Homo sapiens: one gene and its partners. The protein of the gene in region 2 purifies or fractionates together with the protein of the main gene of each other region. This does not show direct contact. Each region holds a gene or a part of one and is shown on either strand. Other genes may lie near its edges.

What was found. The genes of interacting proteins can lie anywhere in the genome.
Region 1: the proteins of PMPCA (region 2) and CLUH purify together in Homo sapiens (affinity purification with mass spectrometry; 2 studies listed by BioGRID and IntAct, with this or other methods). This does not show direct contact.
Region 3: the proteins of PMPCA (region 2) and NUDT8 purify together in Homo sapiens (affinity purification with mass spectrometry; 2 studies listed by BioGRID and IntAct, with this or other methods). This does not show direct contact.

Annotation. Positions count from the first base shown.
Region 1 is NC_000017.11:2,688,010-2,694,865, forward strand, and holds the end of CLUH (clustered mitochondria protein homolog), read right to left. Parts: coding exon 6,848-6,856; intron 6,556-6,847; coding exon 6,471-6,555; intron 6,268-6,470; coding exon 6,114-6,267; intron 6,031-6,113; coding exon 5,891-6,030; intron 4,911-5,890; exon of another isoform or gene 4,852-4,910; coding exon 4,771-4,851; intron 4,688-4,770; coding exon 4,562-4,687; intron 4,474-4,561; coding exon 4,352-4,473; intron 4,089-4,351; coding exon 3,995-4,088; intron 3,887-3,994; coding exon 3,752-3,886; intron 3,674-3,751; coding exon 3,600-3,673; intron 2,769-3,599; coding exon 2,585-2,768; 3' UTR 1,378-2,584; downstream 1-1,377. UniProt on the Homo sapiens protein: mRNA-binding protein involved in proper cytoplasmic distribution of mitochondria.
Region 2 is NC_000009.12:136,419,843-136,424,979, reverse strand, and holds the end of PMPCA (mitochondrial-processing peptidase subunit alpha isoform 1 precursor), read right to left. Parts: intron 3,149-5,137; coding exon 3,004-3,148; coding exon of another isoform or gene 2,720-3,003; exon of another isoform or gene 1,896-2,719; intron 1,886-1,895; coding exon 1,716-1,885; 3' UTR 1,219-1,715; downstream 1-1,218. UniProt on the Homo sapiens protein: Substrate recognition and binding subunit of the essential mitochondrial processing protease (MPP), which cleaves the mitochondrial sequence off newly imported precursors proteins.
Region 3 is NC_000011.10:67,626,561-67,634,555, reverse strand, and holds NUDT8 (mitochondrial coenzyme A diphosphatase NUDT8), read left to right. Parts: upstream 1-4,618; 5' UTR 4,619-4,644; coding exon 4,645-4,838; intron 4,839-5,504; coding exon 5,505-5,637; intron 5,638-6,155; coding exon 6,156-6,233; coding exon of another isoform or gene 6,234-6,251; exon of another isoform or gene 6,252-6,304; coding exon 6,305-6,610; 3' UTR 6,611-6,618; downstream 6,619-7,995. Other genes in the region: T-box transcription factor TBX10, read left to right, coding at 196-367, 1,453-1,608, 1,886-1,953, 2,144-2,238, 2,662-2,951. UniProt on the Homo sapiens protein: Acyl-CoA diphosphatase that mediates the hydrolysis of a wide range of CoA and CoA esters yielding 3',5'-ADP and the corresponding 4'-phosphopantetheine derivative as products.

The DNA.
Region 1 (6,856 bases), on a different chromosome or scaffold from region 2:
GCGTGATTTCGGCTCACTGCAACCTCAGCCTCCTGGGCTTCAAGTGATTCTCCTGCCTCAGCCTCCCGAGTAGCTGGGATTACAGGTGTCCGCCATCACATACCTGGCTAATTTTTGTAATTTTAGTAGAGATGGGGTTTCAGCATGTTGGCCAGGCTGGTTTTGAACTCCTGGCCTCAAATGATCCACCAGCCTTGGCTTCCCAAAGTGCTGGGAATACAGGCGTGAGCCACCACGCCTGGCCCACTTTTTAAAAAGTTGAAACCTGTCACCTAAAAGAAGGGAAGGAGAAAGAGTGGATTTCACACCTAGGGCCTCCATTTGCTTTATGAAAACAGCCCCTTGTCATTTGGGTCGTCAAAAGATGTCTGAGGGCACTAATACGCTTAAAGGATCAGCCAGGAAATAGGGGCCTCTCAGGTGACAAGGAGGCACAACCCTAACCAACCCCGATCTGTTCTCAGCTTCACAGGAGGCCCTGTTTTGAGAGGTGCATGAACATGTGGCTCACGTTCAACAACAAACACTCAGGAGAGGGGACAGAATGTTCAGGACACACCGGTGAGAGCAAAGGAAGCTGCTGCTGGGCTGGGGCTGCTGGGAAGTCTGAGAGGTTCTGTAGCAGGACACTCACTCGCTGGTGGCTGTCCCCGGGTGTCACCTAAAACCGCCAGGTCAGAAGCACCTTTTCTCCGGTTGGCTCAGGAAAACTGACAGACTCAGGGATGGAATTTTTTTCTTTTCAGAATTTCCAAGACGTACAGATCTCTCCAAGCATCCCAAAAGGCGTATGTTCCTGGTGGGGCCGAGGGCCTGCTCTTGGAGACAGATGGCGAGCAGCGGTCAGCAGCTACTGAGAGCTCAACTTCCCCTCTAGAGACAGGCTCTGCCGCTCAAGTCCACCTGGGTCTTGGCTCTCTGAATCCTGTCCGAGGGTGGCGAACTTGAGGCCCTCCTCCCTGCCCCCAGTGTCTCACCTCTGGGCAGTGCTGCCCACCCTCCTTCCTACCTCGAGTGAAGAGACAGGGGCAGGTGGCCAGCCAGGGGGGTGTTCAGTGACCTCACGGGTCCAGCATGCACAGGGCCTGGCCCCACAGCCCAGCACCCCTCCCCACCTGGCCTTCACAGTTTCTTCTGCACCTGGTGACAGGTGACATTCACCTGCACGACACTCCCGCGAACCTGGTGACGGACTGGCAGCTCGGTGAATTCCAGCTGAGTGCCTGTGATTCCACCCCCTTACCTCCCACTCAAGTGACAATGTAAGCGTGACCTCGAACTTGACCTCGTTTGTATCTATTCCTCTCCCAGTCACATTCCTGTCAGCCCTCACCATCCACCCAGACCGGGTTACAGAACACACAGGTGAGCCTGGGGCCGCAGGTTTCAAAAACTCACTTTATTCCAATGTGAAATGAGGACGTGATGGTTTAAAAACAAGAAAAAGTTCTTGCTCAGCGGTGGGGATGCTCTGCTTGCCCGCTCACGCCCATCCCCCTTGAAACAAGGTGTCTGGACGGACCACACCCATAAGCGGCTCTCCGCAAACCCAGGCAGACGCCCGTCTCCTCCGGGTCTCAGGGTGGCCACATCCTCCCCCACCAGGGCTCTGACAGCAGGCACAGAGCAGCAGCACGGGCAGGGTGGAGCGGGAGCAGCGTGTGGGGGCCCCCGCCACCCCCAGAGCTAGTCTCAGACCAGGAAGGGAGCTGGGCACCAGAGAAGCGACATCACGTCGGCACCTGTAACTCCCGGGATCCGTAATTGGGCCCCGCTTCCCCCAGCCTCGCCCCCGGCCCACTGTGCGTTCGGCAGCTCAGGTTAAAACTGAGGGGAGGGATACATTCAGACCGCAGGCCCCAAGGCTGCGCCCAGCTGGGTGCAGGGAGTAGGGAGCCGAGTCAGAGCCACCCACTGGGCTCTGAGGGCCCAGCAAGCCAACCCCGACCCCTCCGTTCGGGAGCAGCAGCCAGACCACGCCAGTCACAACGGCGGCTCCCGTCCCGCCCCAAACTAAAGTGCACCCCAGCCCTCCAGCCCCGCCACAGAGCTCCGGCTCCCCACCCCTCCCCACCGGGTTTTTCGGCCTAAACCCTGAACTTTCAGACAGGCTGGGCCCGGGGGTGGTGGCAGCCAAAGCAGCAGCCATCATGTCGACCATACAAATGACCTGAGAAATCCCGTCTGCGCGTCACCCACTCAGGAGTCACCCACTCAGGACTGGCTCGGGCTATGTACAGGGGAGAGGAACGGTCAACACTCACAGCCAGGGGCGCACTCGCACACGCCGGCCGGACGGCGGGGGCCGAAGCAACACCTGCCCCCCAGCCGGGAACTGATGGCCGCACACGCCATTCACGTGTCTCCAATGGGGCCTCTGCATCATCTATTCATTGAACCAGCGCAAAAACACCTTCTGCGGGGCAGGCAGGCCAGGCTCCCAGGAGGACACGGGGGTGGGGTGGGGTGAGACGTGGAGGAAGAGGGCCTTGCTTCCTCTTCCGCCCGCAGGCTCGCCCCCTTCTCCCGCAGTCGGGCTCCCTGGTGACGGGGCCGCTGGCTGGCTGTCCGTCTGGCTCCCTCTCTATCCCTGCACGCTCGGAGAAGGGTCCTTGGCAGCCGGGGGCTGGGAGCCCAGGTCTCCTGGGGCCCCCGCTGGCGCGGGCTCGGTAGCCATGGGCTCCTCGGCTCTATCCCTGTTTCTGCTGGCCTCCTGGAGCTGGTGCCGCCGCGCCACCTCGGCTTTCAGATTCTCCAGGTCTTTTTGGCTGAGGATAAGGGTGGGGATGGAGGTGGCTCTCAGAGGAGTCCTGGGGGCTCCACCCGCCTCCCGGCTTTCCTGTGGGATAAGCTCAGGCTCTGCGCTCTATTCAGTGGGGAATGTGTGTGAACAAGCGCTTCCCTCCTGAAGGCGGAAGGTCCCTGAACACGGAGAAGGTAAGGACCCCGCACCTGACCCGGCCTCGGGGCTCCCCTCGCTGCCCTCGGTGGCCTCCCTCCAGCGCAGGGGGAGGAAAGCGGAGTTGGGGGGCTGCTGCCACGCCTTGCTGACCAAATCCACTCCCCACAGGAGGCCACACTGCTTGTGGCCACCCCGGGGAGCCCGGGGCCTGCTCCTCAGCCCCCCCCCGCCGCAGGATGGGAAGCGTGGGGAGGGAATGAAGCCGCTTCTTAGGGACTGGTGGGAAAACGCCAAGATACTTTGTGTGAAGCAGAAACACCAAGGTCTTCACTCGCGGAATGCGAGGATGCTGGGGAAGATAAGCGGGGCGGGCCGGGCGCGATGGCTCACGCCTGGAATCCCAGCACTCTGAGAGGCCGAGGCGGGCGGATCGCAAGGTTAAGAGTTCGAGACCAGCCTGGTCAACGTGGTGAAACCCCATCTCTACTACAAACACAAAAATGAGCCGGGCGAGGTGGCGGACACCTGTAATCCCAGCTACTGGGGAGGCTGAGGCAGGAGAATCGCTGAACCCGGGAGGCGGAGGCTGCAGTGAGCCGGGATGGCGCCGCCGCACTCCAGCCCGGGTGACAGGGCGAGACTCCGACTCACAAAAAACCCCCAACCGGGAGACACTCGAGTGGGGCGGAGGCCTCACCTGAGAGGAATGAAGAGGATGCCGTTAATGACGTTCAGCTGCTCCAAGACGCTGGCCATGCTGGGGGCCGTGAACTGCGGGGCGGGGAAACCAGCGGTGAGCGGGGCTCCCGCGCTCGCCGGGCCGGAGGGGCCGCTCCGCCCCGGACTCACCTTGAGGGGCGGGATGTTGGCGCTGGAGCCGTTGCGGTAGATCTCGTTCATGGTGCGCTGCAGGGCCACGGCCTGCTGGGTCAGGCACTTGAGGTACTCGGAGCTTTCCTTGGTCTTCTCATGGTCCTCGCCCAGCTGCGGGGAGGCGGGAAGGGATCAGGCCCCCCCGTGCCCCCGCGGCCCCGCCCCCGCCCCGCCACGCCCCCGCCCCGCCCCCGCCCCCGCCACGCCCCCGCCGCGCACCTGCGTCTTGTAGATGGTGTAACCCTCCTTCTCGTGCTGCAGGGCCGACCGGAACTCAGCTTTGCTCTCGTAGACTCGGGCGACAAGGTGGTGGCTGCCGGGAGGCGCGGCGCGGGGCGAGGGAAGGGCATAAGTGGGCTGGGTGTGGGGGCCTGACTCGGGGGCCCGGGGTCTCCCGTAGATCCCTCCCTGGAAGCCACCGAGGGGAACAGCAAGTCCAGGGCTCAGGGAAGAGGGGGAGGTCGAGAGAAATTTTCTCGGGTGGAGGAAGACAGGAGCACTGGGTCTCTTCCCCGCCCCCGCCGGCTGCCCCGCAGGCCTCCGCCGGCCTTGGCGTTTGGACGGGCGGCCCCTCACCTGAGGGCCACCTTGAGGGCCTTGGGCCCGTGGTACTTGGTGCTGACGGCCAGCGCGTTCTCCAGGAAGCGCAGCGACAGGTCGTACTCCATCACCCCGTGCAGCACCAGCCCGATGTTGTTCTGGGGGCAGGCGGTGGGGGGCCCTGGTCAGCTCCCGGTCCCCTGGGATGGAGCTGGGTCCCTGCCGCCCCCCCGCCCCAGCACTCACGTCCAGCAGCGCCATCTCGGGGTGGTCTTCCCCGAACACCAGCAGCATGAGGTAGCGGGCGCGGTACAGCAGGCTCAGGGCGGTGGACAGCTGGCTGCTGGCGAAGCAGTACAGGGCCAGGTGCATCTGCGGGCGGGGCGGAGACAGGTCAGGGTGGCCGCGGACCCAGCCCCTCGCATCCCCCGGCGCGGGCGGCACTCGCGACTCACGTATTCCTGGATGGTGTTGGGGTGCTCGGTGCCCATCACCCGCTCGCTCATCAGCACCGCCTTCTGCTGGTTACTCAGGGCCTGGGGAGAGACAGTGGTGGTTGCCGCGGCGTGGGAACCCCCACTGCACCCAGAGCCCGCCTGGCCCCGGCCCAGCAGCCCACGGTGCCGCTCTGCAGGCTCCTGTCCCCTCCGGCTGCGCCCAGCACAGTGCAGCAGGGGGGAGGGGGATCAGCAGCAGCTGCTGCCACACCTTGAAGGGCAGGTCACGCTCCACAGAGAGCTCCACACACCCATGTCTTACACCCAACAAAATCTCCACAAACACCCAAATACAAACCTAAAACTACTAAAAATGTTACAAAAAAAAAAAAAAAGCCTGAGCAGGGGTGGGTCCCTTGAGGTCAGGAGTTTGAGACCATCCTGGCCAACATGATGAAACCCCATCTCTACTAAAAATACAAAAATTAGCTGGGTGTGCTGGCTCACGCCTGTAATCCCAGCTACTCGGGAGGCTGAGGTGGGAGAATCGCTTGAGCCCAGGAGGTTGAGGCTGCAGGGAGTCGATATCACGCCACTACACTCCAGCCTGGGTGACAAAGCAAGACCCTGTCTCAGAAACAAACAAACAAACAAACAACCCACCCATTTATAAACAGAAGAAAAAACAGTCCCTTTGCAGGGAGTAGGGATCCTAAGACATGCTAACCCTGAAACAGCCCTGGCCAGGCAGGGCACCCAGAACCCCACCACAGCCTCCACCAGCCCCGGCCAGGCAGGGCACCCAGAACCCCACAGCCTGCACTGGGCACAGAGGACGTGGGAGCTCGGTGGCATGCTTCCTGCCCACTCACGGAGTCTCAGGAGGCGTCCTTGCTGACGCCCTGTGGGGGGGTCCCCTGCCATCGCCTCCCAGAACTGACCTCACCGCAGCACAGGGTGCTCCTGAGCTCTCCCGCTCGGGACACAGTTACAGAGGGGTGGAGCCAGGGGTGGCCTGGGCAGAACCAGCGACTTCCTGGGGTCTCCCTGGACTCCACCCACTCCTCCGTCAGGGGCCCCCTCACTCCCCATCCCCCAACACGAGGCCAGGCCTTTGCTGCCACAGCCCAGAGGGTACCTCTGCGTAGTCGCCCATGATGTAGTGGAGGCGGGCGAGGAGGCGCAGGCAGGCGCAGGTCTCCACGTGCATGGCTCCGTAGACGTTGTTAAACAGGTTCAGGGCCTCATTGATGAGCTCACAGCCCTCCTTCAGGAAGCCTGCAGGGCACCCCCAGGGGTGGCAAGGTCAGGACGGGCCATGGGGAACCCCCACCTCCACCCAGCCCCACCTGGCCACACACCCTGCTGCACTTTGGCCTGCCCGCTCTGGAAGAAATGGAAGGCATCCGAGGCCTTGGGGTTGACGTGCTTGACCACGGGGAAGATGTTGAGCACGTCCTCCTCGGTGAACGCGGGCTTGTGGCGACTGTCGAAGCTGTACTCCTTCAGCAGGACCTGGGGGGCAGCCCCCCCACCACAGGAAGCCTCAGGCCCAGGTTCAGCGGGTTGGCACCTCCCAACCCACCAACGCTTGCGCACAGACGGCTACCGTGAAAAAGCCACTTCCCCTGTGGCCCTGGCCAGGAGTGGGAGCCTGCAGCAGGGACGCAGCGGGGACACAGCGGGGACACAGCGGGGATGCTGTGAGCCATGCCCACCTGGATCCCTGTTTTCAGCGAGATCTCCCGCAGGAGCGTTATCTTCTGCAGGCCGTAGGTCTCCACAGCCTGGTCCACGGTCTCACTGAGGAGGGAGCAGGGGGCCTGAGCAGCCCAAGCACCGCCGGGCCCCCCCAACACCGCCCCACCCAGCTCCCCAACGCTGTCCAGCCCGGGCCCCCAACACTGCCCCACCCGGCCCCCGGGAGCCTCCCGGCTGCCCTCACCCTCCAGCACCCAGTGATCTCCACAGCTGCTCCCTCTTCTCTCTGACTCCCTGGCCTATGACCACAGGCCTTAGACGCCATCTGGGAGCAGGTGGTGGCCGCCTCATCTGCCCAATCCCACCCACCCCACCGCCCCTGCCCCGCACGCACCACTCGAGG
Region 2 (5,137 bases):
CTGCGTGCTGCCGGGAGCTTCTGTCCCAGGTGTGGTTAACACTAGGATGTTTCTAACAGGAAGTCCACTGTTAGAACAGACACCATCGTCCTCCGGCTCCGGCCCTCCAATCCCACCAGGTGGGCAGCAAGCTGACGCTTCCCACATGGGCAAATTCAAGCAGTCACCGTCGCTGGAGTGTGTGTGTTGTAAAGGCACCAGGTCTTACAGAAACTACAACAGCCAGAGGACAGTAAGAGGCTAAGAGGAGTAAAGCTTACAAGTTTAATTTCCTGAAAATATCCACTCCCTCTCCCATCGGTCCTGCAAAGAGGCTGCACCTCTCAGCTACTCAAAAGACAGGACCAGAGACGTTCTCTCCTCCTGACAAAACTGTGCCACACAGCTCTGTGCAGCCCACGGAGTCACACATGTAGGAAGCTACCCTTGGACTACAGGCAGCACCGCAGGTGGCCCATGCAGGTTCCCAGGCCCGACCTCCCCACACCCCTTGGAGCTCCCGAGGTTTCTATGGGTGTTTGAGAACCACGTTACAAGTTTTAACTTGTACACGTTTTTTGCTTGTTTTTGTTTCTTTTTTTGAGACGGAGTTTCACTCTTGTTGCCCAGGCTGGAGTGCAGTGGCGCGATCTTGGCTCACGGCAACCTCCGCCTCCCGGGTTCAAGCGATTCTCCTGCCTCAGCCTCCCAAGTAGCTGGGATTACAGGCATGCGCCACCACGCTCAGCTCATTTTGTATTTTCGATAGAGACGGGGTTTCTCCATGTTGGTCCGGCTGGTCTCAAACTCCCGACCTCAGGTGATCCGCCCGCCTCGGCCTCCCAGCGTGCTGGGATTAGAGGCGTGAGCCACCGCGCCCGGCCTCTTGTACAAGTTTTTACACCACATGAAAGGCTACCCCGTAGCCGCTATTCCCTAAGCCATGCGGCCTTTCGGATCTCTGGAAACACCCACATCTGCGGCCGTTCCTCGGCTTGGCGGTGCTCCCCACCTCTAAGGCACCTGCAGGCTTCGCTGCCGGTCACCATTACCCCCCGTCACCCCACCCCATGCATGCTGCGACACCCCTGACATCAGCACGTCGCACGAGAACAGGCTTCAAGACACGGGGTCAAACCGGACGACTGACAGGGAGGAAGGCCTCCATGTTAGAAAAGCTGCCAATTCAGACAGCCCTTAAGAACCGCCCCTCCCCAGGCGAGAAGGAAAACACCGTGCTAAGAAAGATGCCAGCTCTTTATTACCAGGGAAGCTGTGTGCACGCGCGTGGAGCGCGCTCCTTGGAGCTGACCGGGCCCTTACCTTCTCCTGCTTGTCAGAGGTGAGTCCTGGTACCCAGCACGGTGGCCTCCGGGAGGCTTTGATAGGTCAGCCTTTGCTGCCTCCCAGCTCAGGGCTCCTCCAAGGAACCTGCGGGGCCCCATGTGCCCACAGCCCGAGGAGGGAAGCACCGACCGCCCTCCTCGTGGCACGCTGCACTCCAGCGCTGGGCACTTCACCTGCTTCCTGGCTTGCGGTGGTCAGGCTCGATACTGACTCCACTGATCGGCACATTGAGTTCCAAAAGAATGCAAACCGCGTGGGTGCTGTGGCGACATTGTTTGCACCGTTTATACAACCAGACAGCTTTTTAGACTAAATTCGTGTCCAAACTAACACGCACGGGAACGGGCTCCAGCTGCAGCTCCCTGGGTCTGTCAGGCCGGGGAGCGGTTCTACCGGAAGAGCCGGTACGTCCTGGGCAGGCGCCCGTCCTTACTCGACAGGGCGGTCTGGATGTGCTCATACGTGGGCAGGTCAGTCAGGTCACCCAGGGCGGCCACTGCCGGCTTCCCTCGGAGCATCTTAGAAGCGACTCTCTTCACATCTTCCGGCTTCACGTTGCCTAGTGCAGAGGGCAAACGCGTGTCACACGAGCGCGCCACGGCCCCCACGCTGAGGCTGCATCAGTAAACACACGGAGGGGGCGGCTGGTCTGTACCACTCACTCACGCTGTGCTGCTGATGGGGGCACCTGGGCCCAAAGGCAGCCACTGGGTGTAGCCAAGGGTGAGTCCACAAGTGACAGACGTTGAGTTCTCAGTAAATGGGGACATGGCAATGACTTAAAAATATAGGACAAAGCCACCCAAGAAGAGTTACACTTACAGAAGAGCGAGCTCCGTGTCTGATGAACTCACTTTAGGACGGCCTGCAGAAAAAACCCCCAGCCCCCGAGGGCCGCATGGACAGAAGGGTGGGGTGAGAGAAGGCCAAAGGGCTGCACCCAGGAACCCCAGGACAGGAGTGATAGGGTCCAGGTGGGTCTGTTTTCTACAGAAAACGAGGCCCGAGAGAGGCTGGACACTCGCTTGAGGATTTAAGCGGGGGCTCCTGAGGGAAGGACGAGGGCCCACACGGGACAGGGCAAGTGCCCGGGACTCCAGGCCTGGAAAGGAGATGCCCACAGGTGACACCATAAGCCCGAGCCACCCCAACGTAATAGGCAGCCTTGCCAGGTTTTAAGCCTGTCCCCCAGAAGAGTCCGATGCACATACAACTTGGCAGTTTCAGGAAATTCAGACCTCCTAAGGTCACTCATGGGGGCCCCGGAAACCTGGGGCTGAGACTCCTGCCCGAGAGCCAGCAACGGTACAGCGGCATTCCGAGCCACTGCTACTCCACGTACAATGTAGCAGTCCTCTACTGAGCCCTTCTCGCCTACTAACTTGAGTGCTCTTTAACAACTCTGGGCAGTAGTGACAGCCCCTCCCAGGGGTGCAGAGGGTGGGGTCACCTGCCAAGGAGGCAGCAGGTGCATGGTGGGGCCGGGAAGTGAGACCAGGTCTGCGACCCCACGACCCTGCCCTTGGCCGCCCCTGCTGAGGACAACTGGTGAAGGCCCCAGATTCTGGGTGTGATGGACATACCACAGGCCCACCACGGCCTGCGGGAGGGCGAGACGGCCTCCTCTGAGCCTGGCCGAGGCCTGCGGCAGCCCCTCACTACCCCTGCGGTACTCACGGATGAGCGTGCACAGCTCGTGCGGCAGCTTTCTGGAGCGAGTGGCCAGCACCTGCCTCCCCACATCCTCGAAGATCACAGGCCTGGATTCCAGGTTCATCATGAGCATTGATGTCAGCTGCGTCTTGGCTCGTTCCAGCTCCACCTGGGGCCAGGGTCCAGTCAGGTGAGCACACACCCGCCCCGTGCCACCTTCCACCCCCCACTCGAGCAATGGCAAAACGCCATCTCTGTGCCCAAAGCTGAACATAAGAAAGGGAAGGGCAGCCGGGCGCAGTGGCTCCCGCCTGTAATCCCAGCTCTTTGGGAGGCTGAGGCAGGCGGATCACGAGGTCAGGAGATTGAGACCATCCTGGCTAACAGAGTGAAACCCCTTCTCTACTAAAAATACAAAAAGAAATTAGCTGGGCGTGGTGGCGGGCGCCTGTAGTCCCAGCTGCTCAGGAAGCTGAGGCGGGAGAATGGCATGAACCCGGGAGGCGGAGCTTGCAGTGAGCCCAGATCGCACCACTGCACTCCAGCCTGGGCGACAGAGCAAGACTCTGTCTCAAAAAAAAAAAAAAAAAAAAAAACGGGAACCCAGGCCCAAGTCACAGGCAACCCTGCTGGTCTCCCCTTCAGGTTTTTTAGGGAAGGGCTGTGCTACGTGTTACCCGGCTTCTACCACACTTGAAATACAGGAGCAATGTGCCTCCCTTGAGTTCTTCATTGTCTGTGTGACATGCAGCGGGAGAAGGTAAAATAGTTAACTCCCAAATGCCAGGGCCCCAAAGTGGCCACACGGCAAAATCGGGGAAAACAAATGAAACACAGGTTCTGGGGCTTCCCCAGACGCCTCCGGCGCAGGGCCCAGGCAGCTGGTTTTAGCAAAGTCCCTGGGAGGTTCTGAGGGAGGCAGTGCGGGTCCTAGGCTGCCTTCAGACTGTCTCAGGGCACAGGCAGGGGTGCTGTGAGAAGGACATGCAGATCTAGGAGCCAGCATACTGAAAAACAAACACCAAAAACTGATGGGCCGCAGAGATGCTACACTTTTTTTTTTTTTTCTTAAATAGACACAGGGTCTTGCTATGTTGCCCAGGTCAGTCTTGAACTCCTGGGCTCAAGTGATCCTCCCACCTTGGTCTCCCAAAGTGCTGGGAAAACAGGCATAAGCCACCGGACCTGGCCTCTATACCATTTCTTTTAAGTAAAACAATTCTTAGGTCTTTTTGCAACTTTAGGCAAATACCTAAATACTTCATATTTATTTCAAGTTGACTTCACGTTAGTGGAGGACTGTTTTTCTAGCAGTGCACTAGTGGAACTGAAGCGTATTAATTTAACCACAACTTTATTTCTTGAATGCTTTTTTTCCTGGCCGGGCACGGTGGCTCACACCGGGATCCCAAAGTAATCCCAGCACTTTGGGAGGCCAAGGCAGGTGGATCACCTGAGGTCAGCAGTTCAAGACCGGTCTGGCCAACGTGGTGAAACCCTGTCTCTACTAAAAATACAAAAATTAGCCATGGGGCTGCGTGCAATGGCTCACACCTGTAATCCCAGCACTTTGGGAGGCCGAGATGGGCAGATGACTTGAGGTCAGGAGTTCAAGACCAGCCTGGCCAACATGGTGAAACCCCATCTCTACTAAAAATACAAAAAATTAGCCAGGTGTGGTGGTGGGTGCCTGTAATCCCAGCTACTCAGGAGGCTGAGGTAGGAGAATCACCTGAACCCGGGAGGCGGAGGTTGCAATGAGTTGAGATCATGCCACCGCACTCCAGCCTGGGCAACAGAGCAGGACTCCGTCTCAAAAAAAAAAAAAAAAAACAGAAAACAAAAAACAAAAAAATTAGCTAGGGTGGTGACACATGCCTGTAATCCCAGCTACTCAGGAGGCTAAGGTAGGAGAATCACCTGAACCCGGGAGGTGGAAGGATGCAGTGAGCTGAGATCATGCCACTGCACTCCAGCCTGAGCAAGACTCTGTCTAAAAAAAAAAAAAAGTGTGTGTATAAAACTTGCTTATTTGTACCACTTCTGGTCCAGGAAGTAACGAGGTTCCCAAATGTGTAAAGCATCAAAAACTAAGCTTAAAAAATTAGTAAACAGGGACGCATGGTGGCTCACACCTGTAATTGTAATCCCAGCACCT
Region 3 (7,995 bases), on a different chromosome or scaffold from region 2:
GTCATCCACCAGCCAGGTGCAGCCACAGGGAACTCAGGTCTCAACAGGATTCTCTTGAGCCTTGGGTTCCTTAGCAAGGTGCCCACCAGGTGGGGTGAGCAGTGTTGGAGTCGGCAGCAGCCCCTTCACCCCGCCTGTATTGTTCAGGCGTGACTCTGGTTGGGGAAGCCCTCACCACCTCGCTGTGCTCCCCAGGTATGCCTTCCACAGCTCGGCCTGGCTGGTGGCGGGCAAGGCAGACCCAGCCACACCTGGCCGCGTGCACTTCCACCCCGACTCGCCAGCCAAGGGTGCCCAGTGGATGCGCCAGATTGTGTCCTTTGACAAGCTCAAGCTGACCAACAACCTGCTGGATGACAATGGCCACGTGAGGCCGGGGCCACGGTGGGGACGGAAGGGCCTGGGGTCAGGGCTGGTAGGGACTTTGGTGTCCAATGGCCTTGGTGCCCAGCACCTCTGCCTGCTGCTGATGGTCAAGGCAGGGCGGGGAGCCGGGGTGGCGAGCTCACCTGGCTGGGGGTGGCACAGCAGGAAGGGCTGTCCAGGCAGGTGGAAAAGGGGGTGGGGGCGGGGGAATGTTCCAGCATACGTTGTCCCCCGCAAGGAGAGGGAGGACAAGGTATGGAACGCCCAGCCTAGGCCGGGCCCGCTTTATGTGTGGACACAGCATCATTAACACTTGGTCAAACAGCCAACGATCCCTGCCCTCACAGAGGTCACTTCCTGGGGCAAAGGCAGGGTCCAGAAGACACTGTCCCCAGCGTCTCAGATAGGGACAAATGCCAAAGAGGAAGCAGAGGTACGGAAGGGGGGCGGAGAAAGGGTGCTGCTGCTCTCAGGGGGCGCAGGGAGCTGAAGACCTGAAGGAGGTGGAGGATGCAGCGGCCCATGCCCGTCAGAGGGGACAGTAGGTGCAAAGGCCCTGAGGCCAGAGAATCCTGGGCCGGCAGAATTGCAAGACGCATCCATGGGGCCGGAGTGGAGCCAGGAGGGGAAGCCAAGGAGGCGAATGCCTGAGGGGTCGGGCTGACTTCGGGGGGCTCTGGCTTTTACCGTGTGGGGTGGAAGTCGCTGGACGGTTAGGAGCAGGGGGCATATGATGTGGCTTCCCGGGCAGCTGTGTGGAGAAGGAACAGAGGGGTAAGGCGGGGACAGGGGACAGGCCAGGAGGCAACCGAGGAAACTGGTGAACGCGACAGTGACGGGCCAGCACACAGGCAGTGGGTGGCAGCTGGGATGTGGGGTGTGAGAGGACATGGAGGCAAGGATCCATGATCCAAAGGGGCCTTTGACACGGAACTGCAGCCTCTCCAGCTCAGACCCTGTGCTGCCATGAAAGGAACAGGGTGGCAGGCCCAGGGCAGTCTCCCGGCTTGGAGGGAAGGACTCCAGCCTCAGGGAGTCCGCTGTACTCCGCCTCACCCCTGTACCCCTGCTCTGTCCCTTCCACAGATCATTCTCAACTCTATGCACCGCTACCAGCCCCGTTTCCACGTGGTCTTCGTGGACCCACGCAAGGACAGTGAGCGCTATGCCCAGGAGAACTTCAAGTCCTTCATCTTCACAGAGACCCAGTTCACAGCAGTGACAGCCTATCAGAACCACAGGGTGGGTGAACCAGCTCGGGAGCACCCGCTGCAGGCCCATTTCACAGGGGTGGAGACTGAGCCCTGAGGCTTGCAGCCCTCACTGGCACAGACTACTGCCCTCCCAACTTGCCCTGAGTATCTGCCATCAGTCAAGGCCCTGCCCGCACTCCTATCAGCTCAGAGTTCCTGGGCCAAGAGGCCCAGGTGCCAGGGCCTCCTGACTGCCGGTTCCCGGGAGGACAAGGTGGCTGAGCCTGGCTCATGGCCAGCCCACAACTGCACTTTGTCTCCTGCAGATCACCCAGCTGAAAATCGCCAGCAACCCTTTTGCCAAAGGCTTTAGAGAGAGTGACCTGGACTCCTGGTACTGTCTGACCCTGACCCTAGCCCCTCACCCCCACCCCAGGCATATCCTAAGGCCTCAGTTCCTGACCCTTGTTTCAGGGTCACACCCTCTGACCCATCCTGGGGCCCCACCATCTGAAGCTGGCCATGATCCCTGGCCTGGGTTCTTCCCCTTGATCCCCTCCCCCCATTCTCGCTTGCTCTTTCAGGCCTGTGGCCCCACGGCCCCTGCTCAGTGTCCCAGCCCGGAGTCACAGCAGCCTCAGTCCCTGTGTGCTGAAGGGTGCCACAGACAGGGAGAAAGGTAAGGCCCCAGGCCTGCAGACATAGTGGGACTAAGGTGTACACAGTGGGCGGAAGGCAAAGGGACAGGACCTCCAGGAAGGGGCTTCAGCAGCTCAGCGAACCCACAGGGCCCCTGTGTGGACACACGGAGGGGGAAGCAGACATGCCTAAGACAATATGGGGCTCAGGGCAAAGAGCACAGGCAGGGGGTGCCAGGCAGGCTTCCTGCAGGAGGTGGCTCTCAAGCTGGGCCTTGGAGGACTGGGAAGGGTTTGGACAGAGGGAGAAGGTGAAGAAGAAATTCCAGGCAGAGGGAAAAGCAAAGGCGAAGGCTGAGAGGTAGGTAACTTGGGAAGGAGGAGCAGGAAGGGACCAGGGCAGGCCTGGGATGAGGGATGAGGATGCGATGGGAGGCCCAGAGTCCACTCATTTCCTCCCTCAGACCCCAACAAAGCTTCAGCTTCCACCTCCAAGACCCCTGCTTGGCTCCATCATCAGCTGCTGCCCCCACCTGAGGTCCTGCTGGCCCCGGCCACCTACAGGCCTGTCACGTATCAGAGCCTGTACTCTGGAGCCCCGAGCCACCTAGGGATCCCAAGGACCCGACCAGCACCATACCCCCTCCCCAACATCCGGGCTGATAGGGATCAAGGAGGCCTGCCTCTCCCAGCTGGGCTGGGGCTCCTGTCCCCCACTGTGGTGTGCCTGGGGCCTGGCCAGGACTCCCAGTGATGCCAGAAGCCCTGGGGGGAAGCCCTGCTACCCTGGACCTTACACCGGGTGTGGGAATCAGCCTCTGCCCCGCCCCCTCCAGCCCCATCTCTGTCTCAAGGAGAGCAGGGTAGGTGAAAGTCTAGAGAAAGAGGCTACCTGCCCAGGGTCACAGCAAGGCTGGGACCATGGCAAGCTTGGAACCAGGACTTCTATCTCCCAACCCCAGCAGCCTGAATACTGTGCCCTCTTGCTTTGGGGGTAACTCCCGAAAACCCTGCCTTACCTCTCCCTTCCCCCTAACATTAAACTATTTGGCATGAGTGGTCAGAGCACTTCTGTCGTCGTGGTCAGGGTGGGTGGGGGCCTCAGGAACTCCCAGACCCATCATAGTCCCCACATCAGCCCTGTAGGCATCCCGAAGCTCTGCCCAGTGCCGTCCGCATCCCTGGGAGCACACAGTAATATTAAAAGTGGTGACTCCAGCCCAGTGGCAGGGCTGCACTTGCCCAGATGAGGATCGAAACTGGCGCTCAGAGAGGCGCGGGACCTGCTCAACGTCACACAGCAGAGCATGGCGGACACCCGCCACCCCACGTTTAAATGCTGTGCGCAAGGCTGGGGTCATCTGGTCCCCAAGCCCAGGGTCTGGTGGAAGGGCGCAGAACCACGGTGGTCAGTGACCACAGGGGCCGAGGTAGGAAAGGGGGAGGGATTTGGGAATCCGGTCAAGACTCAAGGCAGGAAGGGAGAAGAGCTCTGGACGCTGGGACAAGGAGGTCAAAGGCCTGGGGCTGGAGTCCGACGGAGCCAGAGGGGAAGACAAGACTGGGGGCGGCGCGCGCCACCCAGCGGTATCGGGAGGGAGGACCGGAGGGAGGGCTGGGCCGGACGCTCCTCTCGCGCACCGATCGACCTCGGGTTCCTGGAGGGGCGTCCCCGTGGGATCCCGGCTCCGTACATCCTGGAGCCCCTAGGGGAGGGACGGACCAGTGGGGGCCGGCGGGGCCTCATCAGACACCCCAACGCCAGGACCCAACGGGACCGAGGACGGTCGCCGGGCGCTTCACGGTTCGCGTGGTTTCAGGATCTCGGAGAACACAACCGGCAGGTCCTGCAGCTCCGCGCCCATCTCCCTCCCCGCGGCCACACCCCCGGCCACGGCCCGGCCCTGCCGGAAGCACAGTCCTCCTGGCCACGCCCCCCAGTCCTTCGTAGCAAAAGCTCCGGTCCAGGCCCCGCCCCCAGCCCGCCCCAACCTCGATTGCCTACTAGGCCCCGCCGCCCTTTGGCAGTAACGTCCGAGTCCGGCTCCCGCGCAGGCCCCGCCCCGCCCCGCCCCGCCGCCCTCCGTCCCTCCCATCCGGGGGACTCAACGCGTCCCACCGAGGCCCCGCCTTCAAACAGGCCCCGCCCCCTAACGGACCCCGTCCCACCGAGGACCCGCCTTCAAACAGGCCCCGCCCCCGAACAGACCCAGTCCCACCGAGGCCCCGTCTCCGGGAAGGCCCCGCCCACGAACAGACCCACCCCACTGAGGCCCCCCGACGCCGCTGCCGCTCTGCAGCCCCCCAGGCGGGACGCGTCGCGCGGGCTGCCCCTTCTCCCTCTCAGCTTTCGGAGGGACCCGGGCTGAGCGCCCCGCCCCGCCTCGCCCCGCCTCTTCCCTCGCCCGATCCCGCGCCCTCAGTGTCCCGGCCGCGCAGGACTTGACATGCTGCCCGACTGCCTGTCGGCCGAGGGCGAGCTGCGCTGCCGCCGGCTGCTGGCAGGGGCCACGGCCCGGCTCCGCGCGCGGCCCGCGTCGGCCGCGGTGCTCGTGCCGCTCTGCTCAGTGCGTGGGGTCCCGGCGCTGCTGTACACGCTGCGGTCCAGCCGCCTGACCGGGAGGCACAAGGGCGACGTCAGGTACAGCGGCCGGGAACTCCTCGCCCTTTGCCGGAGGCTACAGGAGCCCGGGGCTGGCAGGGACCTCTGGCAGGGCACTTAGCCCCTTCGAGCCTCGGTTTCCGCCTCCGTAAAATGGGTCTGGGGAGAGTCCCTCCGCCCAAGGGCTGCAGCGAGAGGTCAGCGATCCGTGTCCGTCGGCCCCGGTGCACCTGCCGGGGCGCCACGTCCTCGCCGCGTGGGCCCCTCGTACGCGTCCTTGCGCGCACGCCTGGGCCGGGACACCCCTTTGAGCTGTTTCCCGCTTAGAGGGCGGACGCCGCCCCCTGCCGGCGACTACGGAGAGGTTCGGGCCCCGCCCGGCGGGAATTAAGAACATCCTGAGGACAATGTCAGTGTTGCTGGGGCCACCATAGGCCGAATTTGGGTATCTGAGCCCCAGGATCTTCTTGCCCCTGCTGCAGACCCTCTTATCCTGCGCTGTCCCGGGCCTCTCTTCCTTATCCCCATTGCTCAGGGAGGTAAACTGGCCTCCAGAGGTCGCATGGCTTGCCTGGGGCCTCCCAGTAAACTAGGGGCAGAGGCAGGCGACACTTCGGTGGGCCAGTGGCCCCCCCCGCACTGCCGATACCCCGACCTCTCCGTGGCCCCAAGAGTCCAAGGACCAGACTCCTTGTGTCTGTTTAGTTTCCCAGGCGGCAAGTGCGACCCGGCTGACCAAGATGTGGTGCACACGGCCCTGCGGGAAACCCGGGAGGAGCTGGGCCTGGCAGTGCCCGAGGAGCACGTGTGGGGCCTGCTGCGGCCTGTGTATGATCCGGTAAGCCACTTGGCTGAGGCCACCCCACCCCATTCACTCACTCTGTGCCTGCCCTGGAGCTGGGCTACCAGGGACCAGGAGAGTGGTCATGGACCCCCACGGGCACAAAGTGTGGAAGGGTGCCCCTAACCTGCCTGGTCACATGCACCACCCCACACACCCCCTCGGGAAGGGATTGGGGAGGCTCTGGTGTCCTGAGTAGAGGTGGCCCAGGGCGATGGGGTGGGCCAGCTCCACTCAGTTTGGTGGATTAGGGTCAGGGAAGCTTCATGGGGTAGGCAGGGATTGAACCCAGGCTTGAATGCCAAGTGGGAGATTGTCCTAAGCAGAGGGAACAGGTCTAGTGCATTTGAGGGGACCTGAGTCAGTCAGCATGGCTGGAGGACACAGGCAGGTGGACCCGAACATGACTACCAAAGGCCTATGCATGGCAAAGGGGTCTTCCTCTCACACTCCCCTCCCCAGCCTTCAAACCCAGCGAAGGCCATGCTTCCCTGACCACCTGCCCTCTTCCCCAGCAAAAGGCCACCGTGGTGCCAGTGCTTGCTGGTGTAGGCCCACTGGATCCCCAGAGCCTCAGGCCCAACTCGGAGGAGGTGAGCTGGGGGATATGAGGGGGTTGGGCTGTTCCAGTCCTCTGTCTACCCTCTCTGCCTCCTGCCTGCAGGTAGATGAGGTGTTTGCACTGCCGCTGGCCCACCTGCTGCAGACGCAGAATCAGGGCTATACCCACTTCTGCCGGGGTGGCCACTTCCGCTACACACTACCCGTCTTCCTGCATGGACCACACCGGGTCTGGGGCCTCACAGCTGTCATCACTGAGTTTGCCCTGCAGCTGCTGGCACCTGGTACCTACCAGCCCCGCCTGGCCGGCCTGACCTGCTCAGGGGCTGAGGGTCTGGCCCGCCCTAAGCAGCCCCTGGCTTCACCCTGTCAGGCCAGCTCCACTCCAGGACTGAATAAAGGTCTTTGACAGCTCTAGAGCTCTTGCTTCTGCTGTACTGGGGCCTTGACCTTGGGCAGACCACTCCAGGTCGCTGGCTGGGGCTCCTCCTTCCAGTCACGCCATGCCCCACAGCAATGGACACTTCCTGGGTGCCAAGTACTTGGAGTCAATTCATCTCACCCTCACAACAGCCCATAAGGCAGGGCCAACACTGTCTCTGGCTGGTGAGACTGCTTTCAGGGAGGAGAGACACCTTGCCTAAGGGCCCCACGCTGGGATTGGAACCAGAGCTCTCAGACTCCACAGCCCAGACTCTTAGGCACTGCACTGCCCTGTCTCAGCCTGCACCTCCTGTTCTCTCTGCTGTGCCTGGCTGACGCTGTGCTGGGCTCCGGGATCCCAGAGAGGAGTAAGGCGCACCCATGCCCCTGGGTGTTACTGCAGGAGTCTAACATGCAGAGCCCCTGTGTGTGCCAGCTGCTGTGTGGGGGCCACAGCTGTGGACCGGTCAGATGCTCACCTGCCGTCCAGAGGGGGTGCTCAGTCTAGGGGAGACCTCAGACCAGGTCACACAGATAATCATGTGGTTCCACATTAATTAATCACAGATAATAGTGGAATTATATAAGACATCAACTAGGTAGACCAGGGTTCTGTGAAAGAGCTGAGGGAGCGGGTGGTCTGAGCTTGCCGTGGAGGATGGCTGGATCCAGGGGCTCGGGCTCCCCTCTTGCTGTGCTTTGCGCTGTGCTGGCCTCAGCCCCAAGGAGGTTGTCTGTAGTGCAGAGCGTGAGAGGTTGAGGAGAGGGCAGCAGCATCCATCAACAGAAAACACGGCCGCTCCTTCCCGGCCAGTCTAACCTAGAATTGCACTTCACTGGCCTGCCTTGAGTCACATGTCCTTCCCTGAGCCTGTCACATGGCCGGTTGTGTGTCCGGAATTGGTGGGTTCTTGGTCTCACTGACTTCAAGAATGAAGCCATGGACCCTCACAGTGAGTGTTACAGCTCTTAAGGTGGTGCGTCTGGAGTTTGTTTCTTCTGATGTTCGGATGTGTTTGGAGTTTCTTCCTTCTGGTGAGTTCGTGGTCTCGCTGGCTCAGGAGTGAAGCTACAGACCTTTGTGGTGAGTGTTACAGCTCATAAAAGCAGTGTGGACCCAAAGAGTGAGCAGTAGCAAGATGTATTGCAAAGAGCGAAAGAACAAAGCTTCCACAGTGTGGAAGGGGACCTGAGCGGGTTGCCACTGCTGGCTCGGGCAGCCTGCTTTTATTCTCTTATCTGGCCCCACCCACATCCTGCTGATTGGTAGAGCCGAGTGGTTTGACAGGGCACTGATTGGTGCGTTTACAATCCCTGAGCTAGACACAAAGGTTCTCCACATCCCCACCAGGTTAGTTAGATACAGAGTGT